Linked DNA regions of Homo sapiens. The protein of the gene in region 1 interacts with the protein of each later gene in a pairwise test. Each region holds a gene or a part of one and is shown on either strand. Other genes may lie near its edges.

Region 1 (7,000 bases):
TGCTCTATTGCATAAAAATGGTCTCCCTGGGTTGTGTGCAGGAGCCAGCCTCATTTATTTTAAGCTGTAAACTATAAGTGGCTTTAACACCATGTCTCTCACAGTATGTTCATGCTGCAATCAAAGCGGCTCTGGGTGGGTTGGAGGCTAGAGTTGCATCTCCTGCTTGTTTGAGCCCTGCTGACAAGATAGCACAAGGCGGAGACCAGGCCCACGGGGAGTTGGCTGCTAGAACGTGTCTCCTGCAGTTTCCTTCACCCTGAAGCTTCCTTTTGCAGTTGCCTCCTCTCTGTCCGCCAATTTCTTCTCTGGCCTGGAGAGATCCTGCCTGTAGGAGGCTTGTCTTTCTGGGTTGGAATTGACCTAGACCCAGAGCTGGGCTGTAGTGTAAACTTTCGCCGGTAGGTGGTGCATGAAGATGCCCTCCTGCCCTGTGCTCCCCGAGCTCAGATCTCTGACACCTTCTCTGGCATCTCCATGTACCAGTGCCACACACTGCGGCCTCTTCTGGTGACCTTATCACCCCCTATCTTGATTGTTTTTCCCTGTAGACTGTGAGCCTTGTGGGTGAGGGAGTGCTAGACGTCCTTCCTTCTGTATTTCCAGCATGTGACACAGTGCTGGGCATGTGGATGTTCAGGAATTGTTGGATGAGTAAAAGAATGAATGAACGAATGAATGAATGCATGAATGAGAGAAGAGGGATGGAAGGAGACAAAGGGCCTTATCCTCCAGCATGAAGGTTCGTTAAGTTTGAGGTACACATTCTGTGAAATGAATCAGGCTTCCAGTAAAAAGATGAGTTTCCTTATAACCAGGGCTATCTCTTCACGATGGCCCCGACCCTGACTATCCCTGTTCTGGAAATGCGGTGATCCCAACGGGCGTCTAGGATGCTGGTAACATACTCCCAGCATGAGAAGGTGGGAAGGTCTCATTCATTGTTGTCTGTAACCGGCAGTTCAGAGGCCACCAGCTCGGGGAGTCCCGTCCGTTGCTTTTGAAATTGTCACAGCATTTCTTCCTTCCCTATCTTTCAGAGTGAAACATCTTTCAACCTAATATCAGAAAAATGTGACATTCTATCCATTCTTCGGGACCATCCTGAAAACAGGATTTACCGGAGGAAAATCGAGGTGAGGCAGAGGGCAGGGAGAAGAGCATCCGAAACTAAACAGGCTGGAGTTGGGAGTGTAATGGTGATGCCTCTTTGAAGGCCGATAGTTTGGGCCAGGTTCCTGGGCAAATGAAAGGATTCCTAGGATATTTTGATGTTGGACATTTGCCTTAGCGATAAATCCTTTCATTCCAAAAAAAAAAAAAGGATTTTTTTTTGTTGAAAAGTTTAGCACTATCCTAATGTTTTATTTACTCACCAATACTTCATTACAACTCTGTGAGGTAAGTACTTTTATTACCCCCATTTTACAGCTGAGGAAACTGAGGCACACAAATTAAGTGGTGGCCATTTAGTTCATGAGTGGCCAAGCTAGGATTTAAACCCAGGCAGCTGAGTCTCAAGCCACATTCATAACTGCTGTGCTGGGAGACCTCTTGGAGGGAAAGTTTACGCCAGTGAGGCTAAAGGGATTTGTGGGAAGGCTGCAGGGATCGCTCATGGAGCACTCACCCGTGGATGGCAGGAGGAGCTGGGTGCCCACTCTGTCCCTCTGGTAGGAGGCCCTGGCCGCTCTCTGCACTCTGCAGGTCTTCCTCTCGCTGCAGGACAGGCTTGCTCTGGCACTGGCCCCACAGGCCCTTCCCTTCAAGTTCCTCTCAGACACGCAGCACCGTTGCTGGGCCTCATTACTTATCCTCAGAGACTCTGATAGGTCCAGCTTGGGTCAGATGTCCATCAGCAGCCAGGGGTAGTGGTGTGGGCATCATGTGATCCGAACGCCGCTGCGGGGCACTTCCAGGGAAGGAGCTGGGCTCTGCAGCCCACTGACTTTTGTGTCCCCCAGAGCCCTCCTGGGAGATGAGCCAGGGGCTCCAGAGAGTGCCTGCCTCCCCACTGCCAGCTGGCCTCAGGTGGGCCCAAGTCGGCTCTGAGCCTTCTCATGGCTATGGGGGGAACAGGAACTCCAAGACCCCTTGAAAACCATCCTCTGCTGTCAAAATGCTGCTTATAGTCCCATGAGGCAGGAAAGGGGATTCCAGGCCAGTTCAGAGGGACACCTACTTACTGCTAGGAGTGGAGCTGGAGCCCACCCCTCCCGCCCCTGCTCACACATGCAACCCCCTACCCCCTACTTCTGCCAGCTCCCGATTCTCAGTGCTGCTCCCCCAGGAAGGCTTCCCCAACTTCCAAAATCCAGTGCAATGCCAGTGCCCCGTGGCACCCAGCCAGGCACTCCTGTCCCCTCACAATGCCACTGTCTAATTATCCATCTTCCCTCCCGGACCGTAGGCTGCCTGGGGGCAGGGACGGACACACAGGACAATGCAGTGTATTTTTATATCAGGGGAATGAACGAGGGTGGGAGGCTGAGGGGATAGCAGCCTGAAGGGAGGGAGCAGACATTTCCTGGGAGAGATGGGGGGCACCTGGCCAGTCCCAGTGCCCAAACCACACAGAGCCGTTGTTGGTGCAAATGCCCACATTTCTTTCTGTCCCCCTCAGGAACTCAGCAAAAGGTTCACCGCCATCCGCAAGACCAAAGGGGATGGGAACTGCTTCTACAGGGCCTTGGGCTATTCCTACCTGGAGTCCCTGCTGGGGAAGAGCAGGGAGATCTTCAAGTGAGTGCCGGGGCCCCTTGGCCTGTCAGGGCTGTGTTCTCTGTGCTAGGTCAGCCTCAAGTCTCTCGGAGGTTTTCGTTACACTCAGGCTGGTTAACCCAGAGAATGAGCTGAAGAGCTGCCTGGCAGAGGCGTTTGATGTTGGGGGTGCCCAGCTGCCTGCTGTGGTGAAGTTGGGGGCAGCCAAGGGGTGGAGGATGGAATCTGTGACCTCCCAGATGCTTTCCAGCCTCTGCTTCCACCACAGGCCTGGGTCAGCCCAGGTGAGTCGCAGGGAGCAGGTACTTCGTGACCCACTCTGAAAAGAAAAGAAAAGACAAACAAAAAGAAGCTTTGCCCCGGTGTTCTGCATAATTCCTGTTGACCTTGGTGTGGAGTGTGTGTGACCCAGGCATTCAGCTGGCTGGGCCTGTCCCTGAGGTTCATGCTGGAGAAGGTCTGTGTCCAGAGCTGCCCCTGTCATCTCGGCTAGTTCAGGGCTTCTCATATCTGAAGTTTGTACAAGGCGCCTGGTTCTCTAGTCCATAGCAAGAAAAAAAAAAGCAAAGACAAACAAACCCCTGAGACCTGGCTTGGACCCGAATTCCTGTCCAGTGGGAGCAGGGCAGAGCAGGGACTGCTTTTGTCACTGGCTCCCAGGAGATGCTGATGCTGCTGGGCCTCAAACCACGCTTTGAGGAGCAAGGAGCTAAGAGACCCACCTGGCTCTTAACCTTTGGGGGTCTCAGAGCCCTTAGAGGCTTTGGTGAGGGCCATGGGCCCTCCTCATCTGAGACCCGCACCGACATGCTCTCTGGAAACAGTACGGGGGGCAGTGGGTCCCAGAGCACTTCTTTGGCTGAGGCAGGTTTCTCAACGGCGGCATGACTGACGTTTTGGGCCAGATCATGCTCACGGTGGGGGCTGTCCTATGCATTGTAGGCCTATTAACAGCATCCCTGGCCCCCTACCCGTGACATAGTAGTAGTAACCCCCTCCCCAAGTCATGACAATCAAAACTGCCTGCAGACACTGCCAAAAACCTCTTTCGGTGGAAAAAAGTCGACCCTATCTGGTTGAGAACTACTAGGTTAAGGCCATCGTCTCCTGTTCAAAATATAGATGATCTCAAAGAGGGTAGAAGTTGAGCCATCTGTTCCTTGGCTGAACCATTCAGATTGTTTTGCCAGTGACAGACTGGCAGAGCCCCTTTTGATGGAGAGTCAGCTATCTCAAGCCATTCCCCTCCCCAACTTTCTCACAGCCCTGTGGGGACCAACACAGCACAGTGCAGGGATTATGACCCCAACTTCATTTCCCCACGACCCATGTCCCCTGGAGTTGTGCCATGCAGCAGCCCTGGGCTCTGAGGCCAGACCTCACTCTCTTGCTTACTTGCTGTGCGACCTTGGGCAAGTGACCTGATCTCTCTGATCCTGTTTTCATGCCTGTGGAAGGTGGACATTATAACACACTTCAGGGGGCTATTGTGAGGACTCAGTGGGTGATGCTGGCTAAGCCCAGCGCCTGCATTTCTCTCTGCACCAGCCCACGTGCTCTGTTTACCTTCACTCCGTCCTGTCTCCCCACTCCAGTCAGCACACACGGGTGCCATGCTCAGACCCTTCTCTAGGCTGTGGGGATACTGCAGTGAACAAGAGAGACAAAATCCCTGCCTTGTGGGGCTTGCGTCCTAATGGTAGAAGATGCACAGTACATGAGTATCACGTTTGAGGTGTCGGATGGTGATAAGTATTGTGGGAAAAATCAGGCAGGAAGGAGGCCGAGGAGTGCAAGGTCTGGGGTTGGCAGTTTCAAGCAGGGTTGGAGAGGTAAGGGCGGCAGGGCACATAGGGCCTTGGGCCTTTCTAAGGACCTTGGCTTTCAGCCTGAAGGACACGGGAGCCACCGAGGGATTGCGCAGCACGGGGGACCTGCCCTGCTGGCTGCTGTGTGCAGGACAGACGGGGGCGGAGACACAGCCAGGGAGATGTGGTCGGGGAGAGATCCAGAGGGGAGATGGCTGTGGCATGAGCAGGTGGATGCAGTGGGCATGGCAAGAAGTGGGCAGGTCTAGACACCTGTGAAGGTGGCGAAAGGATTCGTGCCCGACTCACATGTTGGACATGGCAGAGTCAAGAATGGCTCCCAGAGGTTTGGCCTGAGAGTTAGCAGGATGGAGAAGCCGTTTGCTGCAAAGGAGGGCTGAGGAATATCAGGAGCTGTGTTTTGCGATGCTGTCTGAAATGTCCGGGAGCCATAGAGTAGGGGTGTCTGGTGGGCAGTGGAGGTATAAGGCTGGCGTTCAGCAGGCAGGCCGGGGCACACAGGTGATAAGTCAAACCAAAAGGCTGCATGAGACCACCAGCATTTTTTCTTTCTTTTTTTAAAATATTTTCCTTCTCTCTTTATTTTTTCTTAAGAGATGGGTCTTCCTATGTTGCCTAGGCTGGCCTCGAACTCTTGGGCTCAGGCGGTCCTCCCTCCTCAGCCTGCATCTTCTTAACACAAAAACCGAGACCATGTCACTCCCAAGCTTGAAATATGCCCCTGACCTCTAGGAGCAGTGGAAACCCCTGACACCAACGCCCTCCACACCAGGCCCCTGCCTCTCCTGCCCCGTTGCCTACCCACCCTGAGTTCTAGGCACAGGGACTCACTTATCCTACACACACCAGAGCTTGCAGGCATGACATGCCGCCTGACGCTGCCTGGGCCTAGGTAGCCCTGCTTCTGACCCGGCTGTGGGTTCCTTGGGCCCCAGGCAGGCTGCTTCACTCACTCCTCTGTAGCTCCTTTCCCCAGTTGAACAGTGGCCATAGCCCTGTCACGGACATTAAGTGATTGACTCGTGAGCACTTGGAACACTGACCTGGGGTGTTCCGTGCTAGCTCTTAGCGTCAGCGTCATGCATCCTCCACAAGCCACTGTCTCCCTGTGTGCAGTGAGCCCAGAGCCACCCAGGCAGACACTTGTTCTCTGCTCAGTGCTGCTGCAGGGCTGGAGCAAGCGTGTTGCAGCAGTATGCTTGTTCCAGCCCTGTATCTTGCATACTTGCTCTAGAAGTATGCGAAGTACTTGTGTGTGCCAGAGGCTTGGAGAACACGCGCCGCCTCTGAGGGCAGCCACTGTTACTACCACATCTGATGAGCAAACAGAGCCTCATAGAGGTCAAATGACTTGCCAGAGGTCCCACACAGGCTTGTGTGCAGCCCCAGCGGTCTGAACTTGCACCCCCTCCAAGCCCCAGTGCTATCCTTCTCCCTATCCCTGGCTTGCCTCTCGGGGGTGCATGTCCTGGCCTGGGGGCTTGCCCCCTTCTGACAGAGCCTACGACTGCATGCTGCTTATCTCCGTGCCCCAGTGCCTGGCACAGAGGGGCCCACAAGTCACTGGCGAGGAATGAATGTGGAATGAGGCAGAGGTTTGGGGGTGGGAGGGGGGGCAGGAGAGCTGGGAGCAGAGCAGTGCACTTCATGGCCATGCAGGGACAGAGTGGCTAGAAGAGGGTGCCGGCCCTTGGAGCAGCCCTGGAGGACTGCAGCTGCTTCCTGGAGCTGCTTCTAGTACTCTGGCCATGGGCCACCTAGCCGCAGCTGAAGACTGAACAGGGGGTGCTGATGAGGGTGGCTCCTGAGTGAGAGGCGTTAGCCAGCACTGACCATCAGATCCTTGCCCTGGCCAGGAGGGGAAACCTAGGCAGCAGGTACCACTGCAGTGGAGGCCTCGTCCTCCCAGGCAGCTCTCCGTTCGCCCTCAGCACCCCTGCAGTCAAGGCGTCATCACCATCCACACTTGCGCCAAAGTGGAGCTTATGGCCAAAAGCCACAGGGGGACTTGACAGGGCTGGAGGGGACTGCGGCTAGAAGCCAGCACAGGCTCCATCCCTCCAATCCAGGCACCTCACCCTGCAATCAGGACAAACTAGTCCTGGCCCAGGCAGGACTGTTAGATATGCCAGGACCAGGCAGGGGCAAGCGGCATCTAGGCAAATACTCCTCCTTCTGAGTTAGGAGACCAGCTTCCCGTCCACACCCACCACCTTCTCCCTCCTCACTGCCCCCTGTCCTCCTACAAGGCACCAGGCTTTTCTGGAGCACAGCACCTTCTGAGGTGGCCCAGGCCTCTGTATTCCCTTGTGAACCTTCTGCCTCCTGGGTGCTGTCAGAGCCTCATCTCCGTTCCCAGGCAAAGTGAGGGGCTGGAGAACTAGGTGTGGCCTTAGTGTTCTGCGCCTGCCAGCTGGTCACCCAGGGCCGCTCACCTGGTCCTTGTGGGA
Region 2 (6,158 bases), on another chromosome or scaffold:
TTGGGAGGCTGAAGCAGGCAGATCGCTTGAGCCCAAGAGTTCAAGACCAGCTTGGGCAACATGGTGAAAGCCCGCCTCTACAAAAAAATACAAAAATTAGCTGGGAGTGGTGGTGTGCGCCTGTAGTCCCAGCTACTCAGGAGGCTAAGGTGGGAGGATCACTTGAGCCCAGGAGGTGGAGGTTGCAGTGAGCTGAGATTGCGCCACTGCACTCCAGCTGGGTGAGAGACTGTCTCAAAAACAAAAACAAACAAAAACAAAACAAAACAAACTCGGGCCTTGCTTGCTCTGAGATGGGCAGAACATGGGGCTTGGTGCGTGGGCTATGGAGCCAGAACAAGTGCCAAATGTGAGTTCTAACTCTGCCTCTCACCAGCTCTGTACCATCGGCCAAGGTACTTACCCTCCTCAGCTTCCCCATCTAAGATGGTGCTAACAACAGGGCTCACCTCACGTGTGCTGTGAGGACCGAATGCCTTAACAAACATGAGCAGCAGGCACCAGCCACACAATAGATGTCAGCTTTATTGCGCGGATGGCTCAATGGATTTCAACTCTGAATGGCCTCACTGTGCTCCCACATCACACACTTAGGGTGGGTGCTGAAGTTGCCACTTAAAGCTCCCCAGCAGCTGTGAGACCCTTAGGGCAGACCCCTGTCAGATCAGCTGTAAGATGTACCATAGGTTTTTCTTGACTACTGAGAACAAATTTAGCATCAACTTGGGGAGACGCCCAAGGGACTCACTGGCCCAGGACAGTCCTCTGTGCCTCCCTCCCCAAGAACCACTCAGTCTAGTCACCTAAGACTTTTTTTTGGGGGGGAATTTTTTTTTTTAATAGTTATTGAGTGTTCTACAGCTTACAGTAAATACCATAGTTACAAATTCTTGGCTTCAATCTTTCAGAGTGATCACTGTCTGATCTTCAAAACAAAACAAAAACCCAAAAGAATCCAAAACAACAAAACAAAACCAGATTTACACTTCATACACACAGGCAAGGCCATGGGGCTTTCCAATCTTTACACTCCGGACTGTGTTTTGAAAACACCTATAAATTCTTTGATCAAACTACTTGGAAGACACTGGTCAAAGGTTTATTATTATTATTATTATTATTATTATTATTTTAAATTTTATTTCTTTTTAAAATGTGAGTTCCAATAAAATTTAAAAATTAGATTCCAACCTGTAGATTAAAATGAATTAAAAAATACAAAATCATATACAACGCTCTCTTCACAGGGATGTTACATGCCATGAGAACAGGTTTCTCTGTCATGTGATATGAAACAGGGAAGCAGATGCCTTTAAGTCAGGATGGGGACAGGCCCTTGGGCCTTTCAAGATTATTACAGACAACTCCAAGTAGCTAGAGGCCTGGCCTTACCCCCCCTGGGTAAGGAGGAGCTTGAGTCACACCATAGATCCAGACTATCTGGCTGACCCGAGGAGAAGGTCTCTGGGACAGTCTCCTCTCTTTCCCTGACTCTCTTAGGCCTGAGGAGAAAGGCTGGGGTCTGGAGATGCTGGTCTTGCTGGGGTCAGGCCCAAAGCTGATCTCACCCATTTGATTCCTATGGGCCGGTACTTTGCAAAGCTGTTACATCTGTTCTCCTTAGGAAGGAAAATCCCCCTGCTATCAGTGGCTGGAATGGGTAGAGGACCTCTACCACAGCAAGGATATCCAGGGACTATCCATGTGGCCATAGGGAAGCAAGTGCTGTTTTGTCCCTTTCTAGCTTTGTGGCAGCCAGTCCCAACTCCTGTGTGCCTCGGTTGGCCTTTGGGTTGGACTCAACAGCATGCACCACAGAAGATATCCACTGGAGAGACTGAGGGACTGGGACCCAAGTCTGGCTTAGGCAGGGCTGGCCATGGAATGTTGAAGCTGGCCTGCCAGGAATTTTGAAGGCTGGGTCCTGGAACCATATAATGCCTAATTTCAGAAACGAGGAGTTTTCTAGGAAAGGGGCAGATAAGTAAAGGACAAACCCTGCAGCCCCCTTGGCATGCCTGCCTGTGCGCTCAGAGGCTCCGGTGTGGAATCCCATCAGTTAGTCTGGCGTGTTTCTTCAGCTCTGCGGGTGGGTCCCAACTGGCCCACTCTACTACTGCCCCTCTCTGGATTCCCAAGCTTGGCAAGCAGCGGGGGCCGCACAGCCAGTAGTGATGTGGGAGAATACAGGATGGAAAAGCAGACTTCCACGTATTTTCACTTAACTGCAATTGAGGAGGAATTCTGATACAGATGGTGATATATAAGACAAAGTTCACAGGGCCCAGAATGGGGCCCACCCCCTCTGGGCACAGAACAAAGCTGAGGAATTTGATATGGAAGCTCTGAGCCTCGCTTAGTCAGTGCCTCGCTGGGAACCTGGATGAGTCCTATCTGTATGAGGAGCCAAAACTTGGTGACCAAGGGGCCTGTCCTTTTATACTTCATGTGATTCCTTTCTGAAGGCCATCAGAACAAAGCAAGCCCTCCAAAGAAGGACCCCCAGATCTCTGGGAACGGGGTACCTCAAACTTGGAACAATTCGGGTGGCCAGGGGTAAGGATGCTCAGAGTCTGGTTCTGGTCCTCACCCATGGGAAAAGCAAGCCCAGGGACTTCAGTCTGTACGTTTTGTACCAACTCACTGGATCTGGACAGTGGGCAGGCTCTCAGGGATTAGGAAGCCAGGTGTGCAGGCTTACCAAGGACATGGGTCTCCCAATAGAAAGATGCCTCGTGCTGTCCTTGAACATGTCTTCGGTCCTGGGCATTGTGACCCCAAAGTGTTTTGTCCAAGTGAGGCCTTTAGTTGCAAATTCTCATCCTCCTTGTGCTGCCAGTTAGATGTGCCTCTGGGTCCCTCCCCAGGGCTCATTACAGGTCCTGGCCCAAAGCAGTTCATACAAATCTGCTCAGCTCAGAGACTGGGCTTCCCAGCTCTATAAAGTACAGTTAGCCCCTCCCTCCATGCTTGCCAAGAGACCCAGCAGGTGGCAGCAGAAAGAGCAGAGGATTTGAAGAATCACTTCCAAGCTGTGTGACCTTTTAGCAAGTCTCAAGCCTCCTGAGCCTTAGTTTTTTCATCTATAAAATGGAGGACTTTGGCAACCAATGTCAAAGTACTTTGCATACCAAAAACGCTCTGGACAGGTGTGTGTGTCTCTGCTAAATATTCAGGAAAGAGGATATACATTTTAGGGTCATTGCCAGGTAAGAAAGAACAGCAACTGTCCTATCTCATGAGGAAGAAATTAAATATGCATTTTTTTTCAAAACATGGCAAACCATTATGTTTCAGGCTTTCACTATTTGCAGGCAATCCAGCTCCCAGACTCAAACTTCTTGACCCCAGGCCAGTGAGGAGAGGGGGTCAGGTAGAAGTAGAAGAATTCAAAAGGGTTGGCTGGTAACGAGCCATCTGTACCCCTGATCCTGGCCATAGGTGTTGCACTTGGGGAGAGGCAGTGGCATGAGGAGGAGAGAGGGGTTTGCATCCTGGGGCCAGTGCTGTAGCTCACTGTCAGGCGGCTACATCCCTTGTCCTCTCTTGCTTGCCTGCCTTCAATGAGACGGCCCTTCCAGCTCTGACTTTTTGTCTAGCTTGACCACCGTGCCATCTAGAATCTTTGGAGGTATCTACCTATGGTACCTCCCACTAGATCTCTGTGACCTTACCAGTAACTGTGCCCATCCTACCAGAGGCACATGACTGTCCCCGCTCTCCTGGGCTCAGTCCTTTTGCAGTGACTCCCCAAGCTTGGCTAGGCTTGTGGATCTCCATCACAGCAAGAGGCTGAGGCCGGCTGAACTGGGGCTCATACTGAAAAAGGGGTGCTGGACCTGGGCTCTTCCAGACCACAGCCTTTCAGTGCCTTATTTTCACCTTGGGGCCCCCCTTTGCTCTTGAATTACATAGTAGGTGCTAAGATAGGGCACAGAGCACAGATGCTTCAGTACGTGAGCCTGTGTGGGGATCAGATGGAGGGGAACGAGACAGCAGACAGCCTGGGATTCGAGTGGCTCTGTCACTTATTAGCAAGTCACTTGACTTTTCCAAGCCTTGATTTCCTTATGGATCAAATAGGAGAAATAACCTCTATTTCATCGGGTTAAACCAGATAATTTATGTTCAACTGTTCTGTGAACTGTGAGGTCCAGCTGTTAGTTTTACTTACTGGTGTTGAAAGAACAAAAGTTACAAGGTCATTCCTAGGTCTCCTCTTCTTCCTTTCTCCTCTCTGTGGTTCCACCCCAGCCCACATGGAGGCAGCAGGGTTCTGGGAAGCCTAGCGGATACCAGCATGCTGCTCACTGTGGGCCTGTTCCCTTCCATAACCTGTTTCCTCATTTGTCAATTGACTGTAATAACTCTAACCCTGTCCCTCTCAGGGCGAGTACATGAAAGGCCGTGAAGTGCTTTGACCTCTGTGATGCACCTGACAAATCCAAAGGTTTCTATTATTATTATCATTATTATTATTTTGGCATTTTTCAAACACGTATGACATAATCTAGAACAACCTTCACCCACCTTTACAAAACCAAAGAGGGTGGAAGGAGGTATTTGCAAAAAGTGAATTAACACTGGAAAACTTTCTATTGTTTTAAAGTGAAACCTCATCAGCACCCAGAACAGATAATTTAGAACAGCTGAATTTTTTCTTACTGGTCCTAAAGTTCCTTGGAAGCCCAGGAAGGTGGGCCCCCAAACTCCTGGCTCTAGGCCAAGGAGGCTGATGGGCTTTACCCTCCTGGGAATGGCTAGACAGCTTCTGAGCTCCTTCCAACCCAAGGGTTTCCTGATTTTTCCCTCCCTTAGGGAGACATGGGAGGTTGGGGTAAGGATATGTCCAAGTTTGCATGAATTTTAAATGAAAGCAGTTTTTTAAAGTCCCAAATGTTGTCAATGATCCCATTTTTTACAATAAAATGTTCGTGCCCCACCCCCAGAGGGGCTGCTGGCCCAGCCAAGCGCTGGGTGCCGGAGGCTGCTGCTGGGCAATCCAGGCTCCTGGCTGAGACTAGCAGGGACCTCCTCGTCCCAGGGGTCCCTCTTCTCCCAGATGAGCCTGTCTCCTGGGCCTCATCCTCATTCTCCTCTCCTGATGACTCCCACTGTCTTCCTCCTCTTCCTCTCCTCTCGGGATGAGGGGCTACTGTCCTAAAAGCATGGCCTCTCCTTTTCGGCCAGTCCACCTGCTCCTTCTCCTGGAGGTGGAGTCAGGTACAGGACGGAAGTTCCAGATGTCTTCACAGAATTTCCAAATGCTATTTCTTCATTTGCAATTTCTGTTCCTGCCATCCGCCCCCATGTAGCCTCTGCCCAGTCTTCAACCCCCGCCTTTGGAGTCCGTGGAGGAAAAGAGCAGAAACAGGAGCCCAGAGACCATTCCAGACTCACCAGGTATGGGCGCTGCCGACTTAATTTTTACAAAACCAAGCCAATCCGTCCCTAGGTAAATTTTTGTAAGCAAGGTGCCCACTAGGTAGGAAGGCTGCATTTAATGCTAATTTACTGTAAGGTCTAGGGAAGTCCTTTCCGCTTCTCTGGGCCTCAGTTTCCTCATCTGCCAAATAGGGAAATGGATGAGATGATTGCTAAGGTCCCTTCAGTTCCATGAGTCTATGAAATGTTTATTGCTATTGCTTTTCCTTCACTATCCTCACCTTCAGAGCTGCCAGCACCCACCTGGAATGTGGTTCCTTCACTTGGGCCATGAATGGCACAGGTAACCAAGAGCTTGGCCTGCCTGCAAGCTCTATGGTCAGACAGGTGAGTCCTGGCACTGGGAAGGGCAAAAGAAAAGGGAGAGAAATGCCCTAGGTTCCCACTCCAATCAGGAGGAAGCTCCTCATCAGAGTGGGTCCATGACAGCTCAGAGGCTGAAGTCTGGATGACACAGGGCATCCGGCCTTCCAAGGCCTCGGGATGCTGGGATCCTACCACCCTGCAGCCGCTTGGCAGGTCTAAGGACAAAATCACCTTTTGAGGAAGTGCCAGGTCAGTTAACATCACTGTGCAAATCAGAAGGTCCAGGGCCAGATGCTTTGGCCAGAGACCTTTCAAACCAAAGCCATGAGGCAAGCACCGCTCCTCCCTTCTTCCCTCTCCTTCCCCACAATGCCCTCCCTCCCCCCACCCTCCCCCAAATTCTAAAG
Region 3 (7,764 bases), on another chromosome or scaffold:
GAGAATAAAACACCAGCAAACTAGCTGCAAAAGAACATTATTTTTATGCCAATAAAACCTATGCAAAGCTTTAAAATGTAAGCCATATTCAACAATTTAAATTATTTTAAATTTGAATTTGTATCTCTTTGAAAGCATTGAATCGAAACAGACAACAGATGGACAAAAAATACTGCCTTTGGAATCTGACAGTTCTAAGCCTGAAGCCTACTTTGCCTTCTACTCACTAGTATGACCTTCAGCAAAATTCTAAACCTCTCTAAGCCTCAGTTTTCTTACCTGTATGACCAGGCACAACCAATTACGTCATGGGGTTACTGTGACAATTAAAGGAGGTATGTCCAAACAGCCCTGTAGTAGATGGTCCAAAAGTGAGAATTGGCCAGGCGCGTTGGCTCACGCCTATAATCCCAACACTTTGGGAGGCCAAGGCAGGCGGATCACCTGAGGTCAGGAGTTCGAGACCAGCCTGACCAACATAGTGAAACCCCATCTCTATTAAAAATACAAAAAATTAGCCGAGCATGGTGGCGCACGCCTGTAATCCCAGCTATTTGGGGGGCAGAGGCAGGGGACTCCCTTGAACCCGGGAAGCGGAGGTTGCAGTGAGCCGAGACTGCGCCATCGCACTCCAGCCTAAGCAACAGGAGTGAAACTCCGTCTCAAAAAAATAAAAAATAAAAAAGTGAGAACTGCTACAATTACATTACTATTTTGTTCCAAAAGCTAGAATTCAGGTTTAACTGTCTACAACTCCTCATGATATCCCAGTTCTCCAGCTCTCTTTCGCTATAAAAGTGGCTTCCTTATGAAAAAGGAAGAAAACTCATCTCTGTTCTTCAAGGGCAACAGTGGAGAGTCAAAGAGATGTCACAGGTACATTCTGAAACAGAAGGGAAAGAAGGTTGGGTGACCCATCAACATGTAGAGGTCAGTTCCCACGTGGCATTGGCCATTTCCAGTTGGGAACCACTTCTTAACAACAAGCCTAATACAAGCACCATCAAAGGGCAGACAGGCAAAGAAAGCAAAGAGGCAAGGAAGTCCAACTTTCCGTTTCCATGATCCACTGTGGAAGCAAATATATAACTAACAAAACAACTGGGTCAATTAGCCCCCACTTTGGGAGCATTTTTAACAGTGTGTTTTGCAGTTTTTGGTAGTTACTGTTATTAATAAGGTAATTCTTTAATTTCTTTAGACAAACAGTAAGAAGGCAGGCAGAGGAAAGGAGAAACAAAAATATTAATGCAAGCTGAAAAGCATAAGCAAAGCTTTCAGAAAGAGCTGAGAGAAACCTCCACCTTCCCAAGGAGTAACACCACAAGAGTATCTGTCCTCTCTATACCACTGCTGTACACATTTAATCAACTCAGTCCTTGAGAATAGCAGGAAATTTACTTACAGAATGTACCACCGCCTTTAAAATATAATGCTAGCAAAGAACCGCTGTCAGGTTCTGAGTTCTTTTCTGCAGCCTTCTTCAATAAGCATTTACTGACCACCTACAAAGTGCCAAACACTATGCTGTTTATTAGGGAAACCCTGCAACACAGTTTGATTCCTGTCCTCAGGGAGATCAGTACGAATAGGGAAGAGTCGAGTAAAGAGATCACCACCACAGAGAGTAAACACCAGGCACAAAGGAAGCCCAGACAAGCTCCAGTCCTATCAATATCCAGCCAACCAGCCCAGGGTTAGGAACTTTCTGAACCTAGGGAACACTCCTGAGCACCACAATTGAACCGTCACAGCAGTATTCCCACACCCCCACAGGTCCTTAGGCAGACACACCCACTGCATGGGCACAGACGCACAGCTGTGTCTGTGCATACATGTTTTGGTCATTAGTTTAGTCAACAAATACTGAGGGCCACACTAAACAGGCAGTTACCAGTGCCAGCTCGGGTCCTAATTCCTCATGTGACTTCGGACAAGTCACTTCCTGAATTGGTACTGGTTCATACCAAAGGCCACAGAAGACCTTGGAATATTCCTCCCCTCAGCTGTCAGCCCTCCTCCCTCGGTGGTGGTTCCACCCTTTCCTAAGCACTAAAAATTTAAAGGCTGAGACCATGAGTCAGTATTATTTTGAATTAACCATGTTCCTTTAATTTTTTACAGTGACCACTCCACCTCATTCCTTTCCTCCACCCACCCTGAACCGGTCTACATTTGAGATTTAAGCGGGGTGGCGGGGCGGGGATCCCTATGCAAATCCCTGACCTCCGGAGTTTTCAATCTAGTTGAGTAACAGAATCAAACATGAAGAGAGATATGTAAGATAAGGTACACCAAGCACTTATGACTAAAGACATTGCAAGGCCAAGAGCAGGTGAAATGCAGCGGGGGCGGACCGCACCGCGAGGGTAAAGCCTCAACGCCCCCCGGGACTTAAGGAGGGGAGACCTCTGGGCAGGAGAACTGAGAAGGCAAGTTCCCTGGAGCAGAGGGAGCAGCAGGGGTAGAGATCGGACGCCGGGAGACCCCAGGCGGCGGGCCGCAGCAGGTCCCGGCAGTCAGACATGTGGGACACTCCCGAGCGGCCAGAAAGGATGCAAGGCGGAGGCTGCAGTCGGGAAAGGAGGAGGGTCCGCGGGGCCGGAGAGGAGGGGCTCGGGGAAAGGACCGGAGGCGGACGCCGGGGAAGCGATGGGAAGGGGTCTGAGAGGCCGGGGGGGCCCACTGGGAGGGCTCTCGAATGGGCTGCTCTAGGGGAGACTGAGAGGGCGGACCTGGGGAAGGTCAGGGTGGTCCAGGGAGGTGGGCGGACCCGTGGCCAGGAGCCTCAGGGAAAATTAGGGAGTGGGGACACCGCGGAGGTGGCGCGGTGCGGGGTCCCCTCAGAGGGGCGCGAGGCTGGGCAGCTCTAGAGGAGAATCTGGAGAGGCGCGGGCCAGAGGGGAAAGGAGCTAGGGTCGTCCGGACTAAACAGGGACACTCACCTGCGAACCAGCGTGGAGAACACCAAGACGCCACGGCGATTCCTCGCCTGCTCGCCTGCAACTGCCGCACGTCCGGCGTCCTGGCCGCCGTTCTGACGTCACGCCTCGGCGCGCATGCGCGGCGGGCCCCGGCCGGTGGGGCGGGGTGTCTGGGTGGTTTTCTGAGAAACGGGACGGAAGGCGGCAGGGGGCGTGGGTCTCCCAGGAGGTCGGCGCTTCCACTAAAAGGAAGTGTTACAAAGTGAGATCCTGTCTTAAAAATATAAAAATTTAAAAAAAAATTGTTAGCACCCTAATCTTGGTTTCTAAATACCGCTCTCTAAAAATAGGGCCAAGGCGCCTTAGAGAAATGGGCGACTCTAGGACCCGGGCGCAGAAAGCTCCAGCTGAGCCGGGAGCGTTTTGTAGGCCAGAAGCTTGAGGTGCTCAAAAAACTGAAGGACCGGGCGTCCAAGGGCGCAGGGATCTACCCAGAGAGCTTCCGGGGGCCGCGCCTGGGACAATTTGAGCAGCAATATAAAGTACATTGCATTAAGTTATAACCTAAAGTATAAAACAGCCCAGAGCCCGTGCTGCTATAAATACGTGATTAAATAAATGAGGGAGAAGGGATAATCTTCCTTGCAGAGGAATTCTAATAATACCTCATCCAGAGGGGTGTGGTAATCCGTCCACACCCACCCTGAGTGTGGCCTATGCCTGGGGACGACCTTTCCAAGAGTACAGTGTGGAAAGAGGGCTGTAGAGCCACTCCACGTGAAAATCAAAGTGATTAGTCACTGCACTTGCCCTTGACATGTGATTAAAAAAAAAACCGTGACCTCAGTCTAACTGAAAGATAAACATCAGACAAATCTCGTTTGTGGGATATTCCTCAAAACACCTCACCAGTACTCCTCAAACTATCAAGGTAATCAAAAGCAAGAAAAAAACTGAGACACTGTCATATGCAACATGGTGATGTAGCTAGGCTATAAACTTAAAATAAAATTTAAGTTTAGGTAATAGTAGTTTTTAGTTATAAGAAATGTATAATGGTTATGTAAGATGTTAACATTAGGAGAAATTGTGTGAAGGGTATACTAGCTTTATAACTTTTTTGTAGTCTAAAATTATTCCAGATGAAAAGTTGGGGGTTTTCTGAAGACAATAGAGGGAAAATAAATGTTAGCCAGGTGAGATGGTTCATGCCAGTAATCCCAGAGCTTTGCGAGCCAGAGGCAGGAGGATTGCTTGAGCCCAGAAGTTTGACCTGCAATCAAGCCACTGCGTTCCAGCCTAGCAGGGGTTGGGGGGTGGTGTAGGGGTACTGCCTGGAAAGAGGCTTGAGAGAGCCTCCTGGCAACCCCACTCCTAGGGTGCTGAAAATGTTCTATACATTGATCTGAGTGGTGGGTACGTGTGTGTAAGTAAAACTTTATCAAGCTGAACACTATACTTAACATTTGTACATTTTTGGCCGGGCACAGTGGCTCACGCCTGTAATCCCAGCACTTTGGGAGGCCGAGGCAGGCAGATCACGAGGTCAGGAGTTTGAGACCAGCCTGACCAACGTGGTGAAACACCGTCCATACTAAAAATACAAAAAAAAATTAGTCAGGCCTGGTGGTGCGCTTGTAATCCCAGATACTCAGAGACTAAAAATACAAAAATTAGCCAGGCGTGGTGGCGGGCGCCGGTAGTCCCAGCTACTTGGGAGGCTGAGGCAGGAAAATGGTGTGAACCCGGGAGGCAGACGTTGCACTGAGCCGAGATCACGCCACTGCACTCCAGCCTAGGCGACAGAGAGACTCCATCTAAAAAAAAAAAAAAAAAAAAAAAAGATTTGTACATTTTTCTGTGTATAAATTATATCTAAATTTAAAAGGGAAAAACTCTTAAAAAAAATATTGGAAGAGCCCTATTATTATTGGTCTTCAAAACCCCAAACTCTGCCAATCAGGGCCCCTGTCTTAACCCAGCTCCTCTCTGGGGAAAATTTAAAAAATGCAGGGTAGGGAGTCCTATGATGCCTGCAATCCCATCTTTTGCAAGATATTATAGCTTAGTCAACACAAGAGTTCAGAGATTTGTGTGACATGGGGTTCTTCCTGGTTCCGCTGCTTCTGGATGAGCTCGGGTAAATTGCCTGACATCAACAAGCTTCTTGACCAGCCCTCATTAAGGCTATACTAGCCCTGACCACCTTCAGGGTCAGTCTTAGGGACCTTTCAGGGTCTGAGTTTGGAGTATCCAAAAATACACTAACACATTCTCTCTGAGTGATGGGACTGTGGATGACATTTCTTTTTTCTACTTTTCTGCATTTTCCAAGTTTTCTTTCATGAATATGTATCACTTCAACAACAGGAAAAAGTAATATTTAAGGCTGGGTGTGATGGCTCACGTCTATAATCCCAGCACTTTGGGAGGCCAAGACAGGAGAATTACTTGAGCCCAGGAGTTCAAGACCAGCTTGGGCAACACAGTGGGACACTTTCTCTACAAAAAAATAAAAATAAAAAAATTAGACTGGCATGGTGGCATGCATCTGTAGTCCCAGCTACTTGAGAGGCTGAGAGGGAAGCTTCACTAGAATCCGGGAGGTCAAGGGTGCAGTGAGCCATGATTGTGTCACTGCACTCCAGGTTGAGCAAAAGAATGAGACCCTGCCTCAAAATAATAATAATTTTTTTTTTGAGATGGAGTCTCACTGTCACCCAGGCTGGTGGACAGTGGCACCATCTAGGCTCACTGCAACCTCCGCCTCCTGGGTTCAAGCAATTATTCTGCCTCAGCCTCCTGAGTAGCTGGGAATACAGGTGTGCGCCCCCACACCCAGCTATTTATTTTGTATTTTTAGTAGAGACAGGGTTTCATCATGTTGGCCAGGCTGGTCTCAAACTCCCGACCTCGTGATCCACCTGCCTCGGCCTCCCAAAATGCTGGGATTACAGGCGTAAGCCACTGCACCCAGACAAAAAAAAAGTAATATTTTAATAAAGTTCAGTTTAAGTAGGCGTTCCAGTACCTGGAGGAGGGAGTGTCCCATAACAAGTTTTCTGATTCAGTAAAACTGGCTTTCTGGGCTGGGCGTGGTGGCTCACGCCTGTAATCCTAGCACTTTGGGAGGTCGAGGCATGCAGATCGCTCGAGGTCCAGAGTTCGAGACCAGCCTGGCCAACGTGGTGAAACCCCATCTCTACTAAAAATACAAAATAATTAGCCAGGCGTGGTGGCGGGCACCTGTAATCCCAGCTACTTGGGAGGCTGAGGCAGGAGAATAGCTTGAACCCAGGAGGCGGAGGTTGCAGTGAGCTGAGATTGTGCCACTGCACTCCAGCCTGGGCGACTGAGTGAAACTCCAACTCAGAAAAAAAAAAAAAAAAAAGAAAGAAAAGAAAAACTGGCTTCCTGTTCATGTTTATTGAGAAGAGGCCAGGGGAAAGAAGGCTGGGTGCAGGTGAGGACGCCTGCTTTCCAGCCCCCTATCTGAATGTGCAGCCTCTTGTCTGAAACTGAGAGGGAGAAGTCCAAGAGTTCAAAGAGTTGCATTGGGACTCTGTACCCATCAGTCACCTGTCTCTGTGGCCCTCAACTGGCTCAAACCAAATTACCTGCTGCTAAGCCCCACTCCATTTCTTGCCCAGTTACTAGTATGCGTTTCTTTATTGAAGAAAATAAAGTGAGAAGTTCTGGTGGTTAAAAAAGAAATTCCAGGCCAGGCACATTAGCTCACACCTGAAATCCCAACATTTGGAAGGCCGAGGCAGGAGGATCACTTGAGGCCAAAAGTTCAAGACCAACCTGGACAACATAGTAAAACAAAATATACAAAAACATAAGTAAATTTAAAAAAAAAACTCCAAATAGAACATGAAGTAAAATACCATGTCTCCCCTGCTACACCCCACATAATTGGGAATGTGGAGCTTCCAAGGAATAGGAGATAACAGGCACTCTTCCTTTACTTTTTCTTTCTTTGTGTTTTTTTTTTTTTTTTTTGAGACGGAGTCTCGCTCTGTCGCCCAGGCTGGAGGGCAGTGGCGGGATCTCGGCTCACTGCAAGCCCCACCTCCCAGGATCACGCCATTCTCCTGCCTCAGCCTCCCAAGTAGCTGGGACTACAGGCACCCGCCACCACGCCCGGCTAATTTTTTGTATTTTTAGTAGAGACGGAGTTTCACCATGTTAGCCAGGATGGTCTCCATCTCCTGACCTCGTGATCCGCCCGCCTCAGCCTCCCAAATTGCTGTGATTACAGGCGTGAGCCACAGCGCCCGGCCGAAATTTTTTATATGTATAAAAGTAGCCAGGGTGGAACAGTAGGATTTCAGCTGCCCCACAATGTTTACCAACACCCAGGTCCATCCCAAACAGACACACAGCACTAGGGAGAAGAGCAGGGGCAAGCAATGCAGAGTGCAGCGCAGGAAGCCGTTCCAGCATGCTGGCTGCACCTTTGCTTCTCCTATACGGAAACTTTGTAACTGCTTTTTGGGGTGGGAAACAATGAGTTTTTGCATGCCTAAATTTTACTTCATTTTGCCCTCAACATCTACTAAGAAGCCATGGCTTTCTTCAGACAGTGGAATCCATTTCTTTCTTTCTTTTTTTTATTTTTTTGAGACGGAGTTTCACTCTTGTTGCCCAGGCTGGAGTGCAATGGCTCGATCTTGGCTCACCACAACCTCCGCCTCCCAGGTTCAAGCGATTCTCCTGCCTCGGCCTCCCAAGCAGCTGATACTACAAGCACCCACCACGACACCCGACTAATTTTGTATTTTTAGTAGAGACGGGGTTTCTCCAGGTTGGTCAGGCTGGTCTCGAACTCCCAACC
Region 4 (7,514 bases), on another chromosome or scaffold:
GGCAGTGCCCAATAAACATTGGCTCTTACTAGTGTTTAAAAGTAAAACAAGACAAAAAAAATGAAATCCAAAGTTGCTAACCTGTGAAAGTTGACAGCCCCAATTAACCCCAACCTGAGGAAGAAAATGACCCTGCTGGACGGTGTTTCCAAAGGTGCTAAGTTGGGAGGGGAGGTCATTAATCTGCCTAAGGTTTCCCAAGACTAATTCTGCAGAGGCAGCTCCGTCCAGGCAGGCCGGGGGTGGCAGGCAGACAGGGGCACGGCTGGCCCTGAGGAGGGCCTCTGCCTTGTCCCCTCAACCGGCTCCCCAAGCAGGACTTTTGTTGGCTCAGTCAGGCACTTTCCACAGTGGCCAGCCACCCTCGGCCAGCGGGCACAGTCAGAACACTGCCAGCCACCCTCAGCTGTGGCCAAAACCCACACTGACTTCCATGGGGTCCCAACTGGCTGCCAGTGTGGGCCTGGCATCTGAGCAGGACTGGTTACAGATTTGCAGGCCCCCGTGTTCAGAAACTGTTAACTATTAGGAATTTCACGATGTCAACAGTAGAAAAAATTAAACTAAAAAATAAATAAATAAAATAATACAATAAACCCCCGACCCTTCAGAGCATGGGGCCCTGGAGAGTGCAGGGGGGTCACACTCCCACGAAGCTGGCTCTGCACACAAGTCCAGCAGAGCACAGATGCGCGGCGCTGCTGGGAGCAAAGCCCCTTAACCTGCTGAAACAGGACGTTTCCTCTGGAAAATCCCCCCGGCCGCGGATTCAACCCATGGGCAGGGCGGATGGTGGCACACGCTGTCTGGAGTCCCAGAAAGGCCTGTCTCTGCAGTCACCCATTTCACAATCCATTTGCTTCACACACCCATTTCACAACCCCATGGCCACAGCCAGGCTGAGAAATGTGTCCCAAACTCCAAACCTGCTGGGACCATGAGAGTCTCCCAGTTCCTGATGCCCCCACTGGCCTGGCATCCCCTCTCTACTGTCCCCTACATGCCCAGCCCACATCTCCCCAGAGAGGAGGCCCAACCCTTTGGGCTCAAGTCGCCTCCAAACCCTCTCCTTTTATATTCTTCCCAGGTCTCGTCCCTCTCTGAAATTATCACCTGGACTCATCTTTTTACACATGTGATGTCAGCCTCACCTGTGAGCCTCAGTATGGCTGGGGCTGCACCTGTGGGTGGTTGGTAACTGCAGGTGGAATGAGATGCCACCTCCTCAGGGAGGGCTTCCTTGATCTCACCCCAACTCTGGCCTTTGGCCTGTTATCACCATGTCTGAAATGACCTCCTGACCTCATTGAGCTATGAGTTTGCATGTGTGTGTGTGTCTTTAGTCCCTTTGTCCCCCACAATGTCACACGAGGTCAGGGAGTTGGTTTTCTTCCCAGCCCTGTGCCCCATACCCAGCACAGAGCTTCACACTGAATAGGAGCAGAATGTTTGTTCAATGAGTGAACAAAACCTTTTTTTTTTTGCCTCTGACTTGTGGCATTCTTCCCAGGGACTCAGGCCTGCCCAATCGCGGTGCCCCCTCCCCACTCCCACTCCCAGCAGTGAGCCCTCCCTCCTCAGCCCATTAACACCTTGGCTCTGCCCATTTCTCCTGGGTAGAATCAGGGAGTTGTGACCTTCTCTGCCTGTGCCTGACAGTGGGCTCTGCCCTTCATGCCCAAAATGCCAGCATCACAGTCCCTGGCACATCTAGGGTTATCAGATTTCGCAAAGAAAAATACAAGCTATCCAGTTAAATTGAGATATACTTACACTAATCATTATTCATAGTTTATCTGAAATTCAAACTGAACTGGGTGTCCTGTATTTAATTCTCGCAGTCCTGGGCACACACGAAGCCTCCTATGAGTGCTGGCAGTCCAGCCTATGCTCCTTCCAAAGCAATTCTCCTTTCCTACTGCCCCGTCAGGGGCCCTGTCTGTGCTGGAATCATCATTGTCCTCAACTGCAAAATGGAAAATAAAATGATAGTGGTTCCTCCCTCCCGGGGTTGCCAAGATGATTAAATAACATAACAACTAAGATGTATCCGGCCCCTTCTCCTCTACTTGCAAGGCATCGATCCCTTCATTCCTCGCAATCACACCACGTGAAGGTGCCATGAAGCCACCCCATTTTGCAGAAGAGGAAACTGAGGTTGGAGAGGTGAAAGCACTCAGCCGAGGTCACACAGCTATGTCCCACTCATCTTTGGGTGACCCTCAGGTTCGGACCCTGAGGTCTGAACACTGCATTAAGCTCTCCAGACAGAATCAACTTCGGAACTAGCGCCAGAGACCACTAAGTCAATCCCAGGTGACACCATCAGCACTCAATAAATGGTAGCCACTGCCGGTGTCGCAGATGGATCAATGGGAGGTCAAGCGTTGTGGGTAGGTTTGGTTTCTTTAAGCCACTGAATTAACTGGTTATTTTTGCCTGCTGGCAGTGCAGCCTCCATTGTGTAAATGCCATCTCACTTCCAAGACAATCAACGTGTGACTTCTCCCAGCCAGACTAGCCAGGTCTCCCGAGACTTCCCGGAGGGCAGGGGCTGTGTCTGGAGTGGCTGAATTCCCCGGCTCAGGGTTGCAGCTCAGCCAGTTTGTTGATTGAATGAATGAAGAAATGGCTGAAAGCAGGGGTGGTAATGATGACCTCCTTCACCCTAGGAAGTGAATGGGACCCAGGTCATCTCCAGGCCCAGCCAGTATTTGCAGTGGCACCCCAAGGGATGCTGGGGGACCCCTTAGCTTTTCTCTTAAGTTGCAGCGGCCAAACTGCAGCAATATCTTCCCTGATAAAAGACACGCTGGTGGTATTGCCCCTTCCTCAAGGCAGGGGCTGAGGGCGCCCAGTTCACAGCAGGGTGCCATCTGGGGTAGACGCTGGGTATTGCCCCACTCCTGGGCCGGGGCCTGGGTCCTGACCTAGTGCTGGCTGTGGCTCCAAGAGTGAGCTTCTCCTCCCAAACAGAAGACGGTCAGTGCCTCTGAACCTCCCTCTGGGCTGGGCACGCTTGGACTCCTCCAAAGAGCTTGGACCAGCCTGAGCCACATCCCTGGGCTTGACTTCTCCAGAACAAGCCTCCTGGTCTTTCTGGGAGAGCTCTGGCAGCATCACTGTGCCTGTGCAGGGAGAGCGGGAACCCACTTCCTGCACCGGCTTTCTCTGAGTTCTTCAGGATGAATTCGCTCTGGTCTAGGTAAGTTCTACCCCGAGGCCACCTTCACTTCCCAAATTCCAGCTTTTCCTTCTCTATCCAAACTGTTACAAACACAGTAACAATAATTTTTAAAAGCTTTTTTTTTCTCTGAACACACTAAGTCCCTGCTAATTACTGAAACTCCAGGCATTACAGGAATATGTGGACACTTAAAGAATCAGGACTACGTGGGAGAGGGGGAGGCAGCTCCCCAGGGTCCTGGGTTGGCACACAGGCTCCACCACTGTGTGACTTTCAACAAGCGACTTCCTTGACCAGCTGCCCGCTCTGTAAAATGGGGAGAGTAATATTCGGCCACACTGAGTCGGTGTCAGGTTGAGTTAATATTTGGAGAGTTTCTGGCACAGGTAGGTGCTCCTTAAGTGCCTGTTAAATAAGTGAAGCTTTGAGAAAGTGTCTAAAAGGCGACACACTAAATTTTTAAGAGGCTGGAGGTGGGCCAGGGAGGGGAGGTCTCTTATGTAATATTTTAATATCTTTTTAAACCTGAAGAATGTGTTCTTGTAGCACTCCTGTAATTAAAACTTAATGAACTAAAAGTACACCCCTCCTGCTCATACCCCTTTTGAACTCCGCAGCCGCGCCCCCCAGCCGGAGGCCCCTTGGGCAGCAGACAATGGGTGTGGATTCGCCCCAGGTCCCGCCGGCTGGGGCGGCGACAATACACCAGTCCCCGACAGCTATTTACATGACAAGGGCTTCCGGGCGTGTCTACGCGAGTTCCCGTCTTTCCTGGTCGTCCTCCTTGGGTTCGGGTGAAAGCGCTTGGGGGTTCAGTGGGCCATGATCCCCGAGCTGCTGGAGAACTGAAGGCGGACAGTCTCCTGCGAAACCAGGCAATGGGTGATCCATCTTGGGGGCTTCCTCCCCCTTTCTCCAATTTCTCTTCCCTGAGCCCCCAGGGACCTTGTGCTCCTCAGAAGATAGGCTAGCCCCAAGAGCCTGGGTCAAGGACCCCAGGGACGGGGGCGAGGGGAGGGCGCACCAGCAACCCGCCCGGGTGCGGCTGGCACCGAGTTCGGCTCCCCGGCCCCGGGCGTGCGCCGGGCAGGCGTTCCAAGCTGACCGCCGTTGGGGAGAGGGCACAGCGCCCCTCCTCCGTTGCGCGGGTGCCGGGTCTACGTGGGCCGCCTAGCTCTGGCCCTTTAAGAGCCCGCCCCGTTTCCCGTCACCCCGCCCCCCGGCTCGGGGAGGGGGTGCGGGGGAACCTCGGCGGGGATTGGCGCAGCGCGCGCCCCCTCCCCGGCCCCCGCGCGGTGGGAACCGGCAGCCCCGTCTAGCGCTGACGTCAGACCGTCTGCCTGCCTCCGACCGCGGTCTCGGAGCGAAACCCGATCTCCTTGGACTTGAATGAGGAGGAGGAGGCGGCGGCGGCGGCGGCGGCGGAGGCGCTCGGCTGGGGAAAGCTAGCGGCAGAGGCTCAGCCCCGGCGGCAGCGCGCGCCCCGCTGCCAGCCCATTTTCCGGACGCCACCCGCGGGCACTGCCGACGCCCCCGGGGCTGCCGAGGGGAGGCCGGGGGGGCGCAGCGGAGCGCGGTCCCGCGCACTGAGCCCCGCGGCGCCCCGGGAACTTGGCGGCGACCCGAGCCCGGCGAGCCGGGGCGCGCCTCCCCCGCCGCGCGCCTCCTGCATGCGGGGCCCCAGCTCCGGGCGCCGGCCGGAGCCCCCCCCGGCCGCCCCCGAGCCCCCCGCGCCCCGCGCCGCGCCGCCGCGCCGTCCATGCACCGCTTGATGGGGGTCAACAGCACCGCCGCCGCCGCCGCCGGGCAGCCCAATGTCTCCTGCACGTGCAACTGCAAACGCTCTTTGTTCCAGAGCATGGAGATCAGTGAGTGACCCCACGCCCCCCTCCCCGGAGACTCCATCGGGCTCGGACCCTATGTCGGGGCACAGCTGCGAGCGGGGGTCCGGGCCCTGCGCGCCCCCTCGGACCGAACGCCCTGCGCCCGGGCAGCGCCCGCCGCGCCCCGGGCGCGCCCTCCCGGCTCGCGGCAGCTGGCGGCCGGCCCGGCTTTGTCCCGCGGCGCTGCGAGCCTGGCACGGCCCCCGCTGTCCGCGCCCCGCCCGCCCGGACTCGGACCCGGGGCTCAGCGGCGGCGCACGGCGCGGGAGGGTTGGGGCGGGCGGATCCGTGAAGTTTCCATTTTATTTCCCTGAGGGCAGTCGCGATGGAGCATTTAGGCCGGCTCTTTATCAACTTTGGGCGGGGGTGGAGGGGCGTGTGAGACACTGTCTGGTCTGCGAGGTGTCTGGGGCTCCGGGCGTGTGTCTGGAGTGTTCGCGGCGCTGTGTCTCGGGCTCTGAGTGGATGTCCGTGCGTCTGTGGAGTGTGCGTGGCTGCGTGGCTCTGTCTGGGTCTTCGGCGTCTCTCGGGGTGTCTGGGGGTCTGAGTCGCGGTCTTGCCCAAGAGTGCGTGTCACCGAGTCTTCCTGCCTCTCTCTGTGTGTCTTTCCCGTGTCCGGGCCGGGGTGCCTTTCTTGAGCGTGTCCATCTTTCTGGGGGTCTGGTCTGGTTGGGCCGGATCTGGGGACCGTGTGTGTCCAGGTGTCTGAATCCAGGGCTCAGCTCTGGCCCGTCTGGCCCAGCGTGGATCTTGAATGTGTGTGTGTCATTGTGCCAGTGTCTGTGTCCCCGACGCACCTATAAATAGCCTCTGTCTGGACAGCTTGGTTCAGTCTGGCTGAGACCATGGTTACAAAGGAGTCAAAGTTTGGGGCTGTTTGTGTTTGGGACTGCCTGGCCCTAAATAAGGGATCAGTGGACCAACGGTGGGGAGTGGGGTTTTGAACCTTGTCGCTAACGCAGCCGCCTGGGCACCCAAAAGTTCAGATAAGTAAGTCTCTACCTCCTGCACACACAGCCCACCTAGGTGGACATTTGGTTGAGTGGAGAATTGAACCACTACCTCCCGGGTTCTGGCTTCTAGCTTCTAGCCTACACCTTGTCCCCCAGCCCACCTTTTCGGGGACCTTTTGCTTCCCTGAGCTTTAGTTTCCCCATCCCCACCCTGAAGAAGCACGCCAGGTGAAGGGGCACACAGTCCTTCCCTGCTGGGGGCCAGGCTGCCCCTAGCTGGGGCCCGGAGCTGAGAAGCAGCCGCTGTGGAATGAAGGCAGTGTCTGGGCGGCTCATAAGCAAGTGTCCGCAGGCGGCTGCCAGTTTGTGGCCCCTGAGCCTATACAGTGAGCTTCAAGTGGTAAAAATAACCAGGCTGGCCGGGCTTTGGTGGTGGGTCCTTCCATCCATCCACCTCTCCACACTCCCTCCCAGCCTGGAATGGAAAGCTCTCCCCCTACCCCACCTTAGCTGGCCTGTGCCAGACTAGCGAGGTGCCAGGAGGACCTGCCCAGAGCCAGCGTTTGCGGAACCGACTTGCCTTCCCAGAGGCCCTTTGTGAACTCAGGAGGCTAATGAAATGCACGAGAATGTTATTAAAATACGTTCGCACACGTTTGGAGAGTCTTGCCTTAGATGGATTGCTGCTTCAGTGCCCTCCTTGCCTCACTTTTTGCCTTTCGCTCTGTAAAGCTGCCTTGAGGACCTCCTGCTCGAGGGGCACACATCCTTGTGTCACCCTTATTCCAAGGGCTGGGCACAGTGCATCATTTTGCTCTTGTCTCTCTTTATGGTTCAGGACTTAAAAAAAAAAAAAAAAAGCATTGTTCTTATTTCTGTCCTTTCTTAGGCTCATCAGTCCATGATGTTTTTGACCTGACATCAAGGCCTCTTGTTAAATGCCTTGCCGCCGCCCTCTGCACTTTGCCCCGCCGCCGCCAGCAGCCTTTGAGTGATTGGGACCCTTGGGGTTAATACCTGGAACCCTAGCCTGTTCCAGCTGGCCCCTGGGTGCCCCAGTTAGTCCTGTGTTCTGTGTATACACAGCCCCCTACTTATTGGAAGAAAGCTGCAAGGCACGGAGGGAACCAACCAGTCTTTAAAATGCAGGTATACTGTAACAGTTTGTTTTCATCAGATTTCCCCGAGAGACTAGGGTGAGGAAGTGGTAAGGCCTGGTGTCTCCTGGAGTTTCTTTACACCAAAAGATAGGAAGGAAGGAGGGAAGGAAAAAAGAAAGGAAAAAAGCTAGTATTTGGTTTTTCTTTTAACTAGTAGTGGCTGCTGTTTTTCATCTAGTACATGCTGGGAGTTGTTTGCAACGAGAACTTGATGGATGGTTTGGAGTTGGGCTTTGAGGCAGTGTCCAAGTGGCTCCTATCCTGTAAGATACCTTCTTTTGGCAGAAGGAAATTGACCTTGCTAGGTCCTTAAGCCATGATGGGCCTCACT

Evidence for each region.
Region 2: the proteins of OTUB2 (region 1) and FAM168A interact in binary tests that used the Homo sapiens proteins (3 or more experiments, as listed by UniProt).
Region 3: the proteins of OTUB2 (region 1) and PLEKHB2 interact in binary tests that used the Homo sapiens proteins (3 or more experiments, as listed by UniProt).
Region 4: the proteins of OTUB2 (region 1) and PMEPA1 interact in binary tests that used the Homo sapiens proteins (3 or more experiments, as listed by UniProt).

The regions. Positions count from the first base shown.
Region 1 is NC_000014.9:94,036,340-94,043,339, forward strand, and holds part of OTUB2 (ubiquitin thioesterase OTUB2), read left to right. Parts: intron 1-1,040; coding exon 1,041-1,136; intron 1,137-2,623; coding exon 2,624-2,742; intron 2,743-7,000. UniProt on the Homo sapiens protein: Hydrolase that can remove conjugated ubiquitin from proteins in vitro and may therefore play an important regulatory role at the level of protein turnover by preventing degradation.
Region 2 is NC_000011.10:73,399,982-73,406,139, forward strand, and holds the end of FAM168A (protein FAM168A), read right to left. Parts: 3' UTR 506-6,158; downstream 1-505.
Region 3 is NC_000002.12:131,100,580-131,108,343, reverse strand, and holds the start of PLEKHB2 (pleckstrin homology domain-containing family B member 2), read right to left. Parts: upstream 3,009-7,764; 5' UTR 2,946-3,008; intron 1-2,945. UniProt on the Homo sapiens protein: Involved in retrograde transport of recycling endosomes.
Region 4 is NC_000020.11:57,707,015-57,714,528, reverse strand, and holds the start of PMEPA1 (protein TMEPAI), read left to right. Parts: upstream 1-4,513; 5' UTR 4,514-4,946; coding exon 4,947-5,055; intron 5,056-7,514. UniProt on the Homo sapiens protein: Functions as a negative regulator of TGF-beta signaling and thereby probably plays a role in cell proliferation, differentiation, apoptosis, motility, extracellular matrix production and immunosuppression.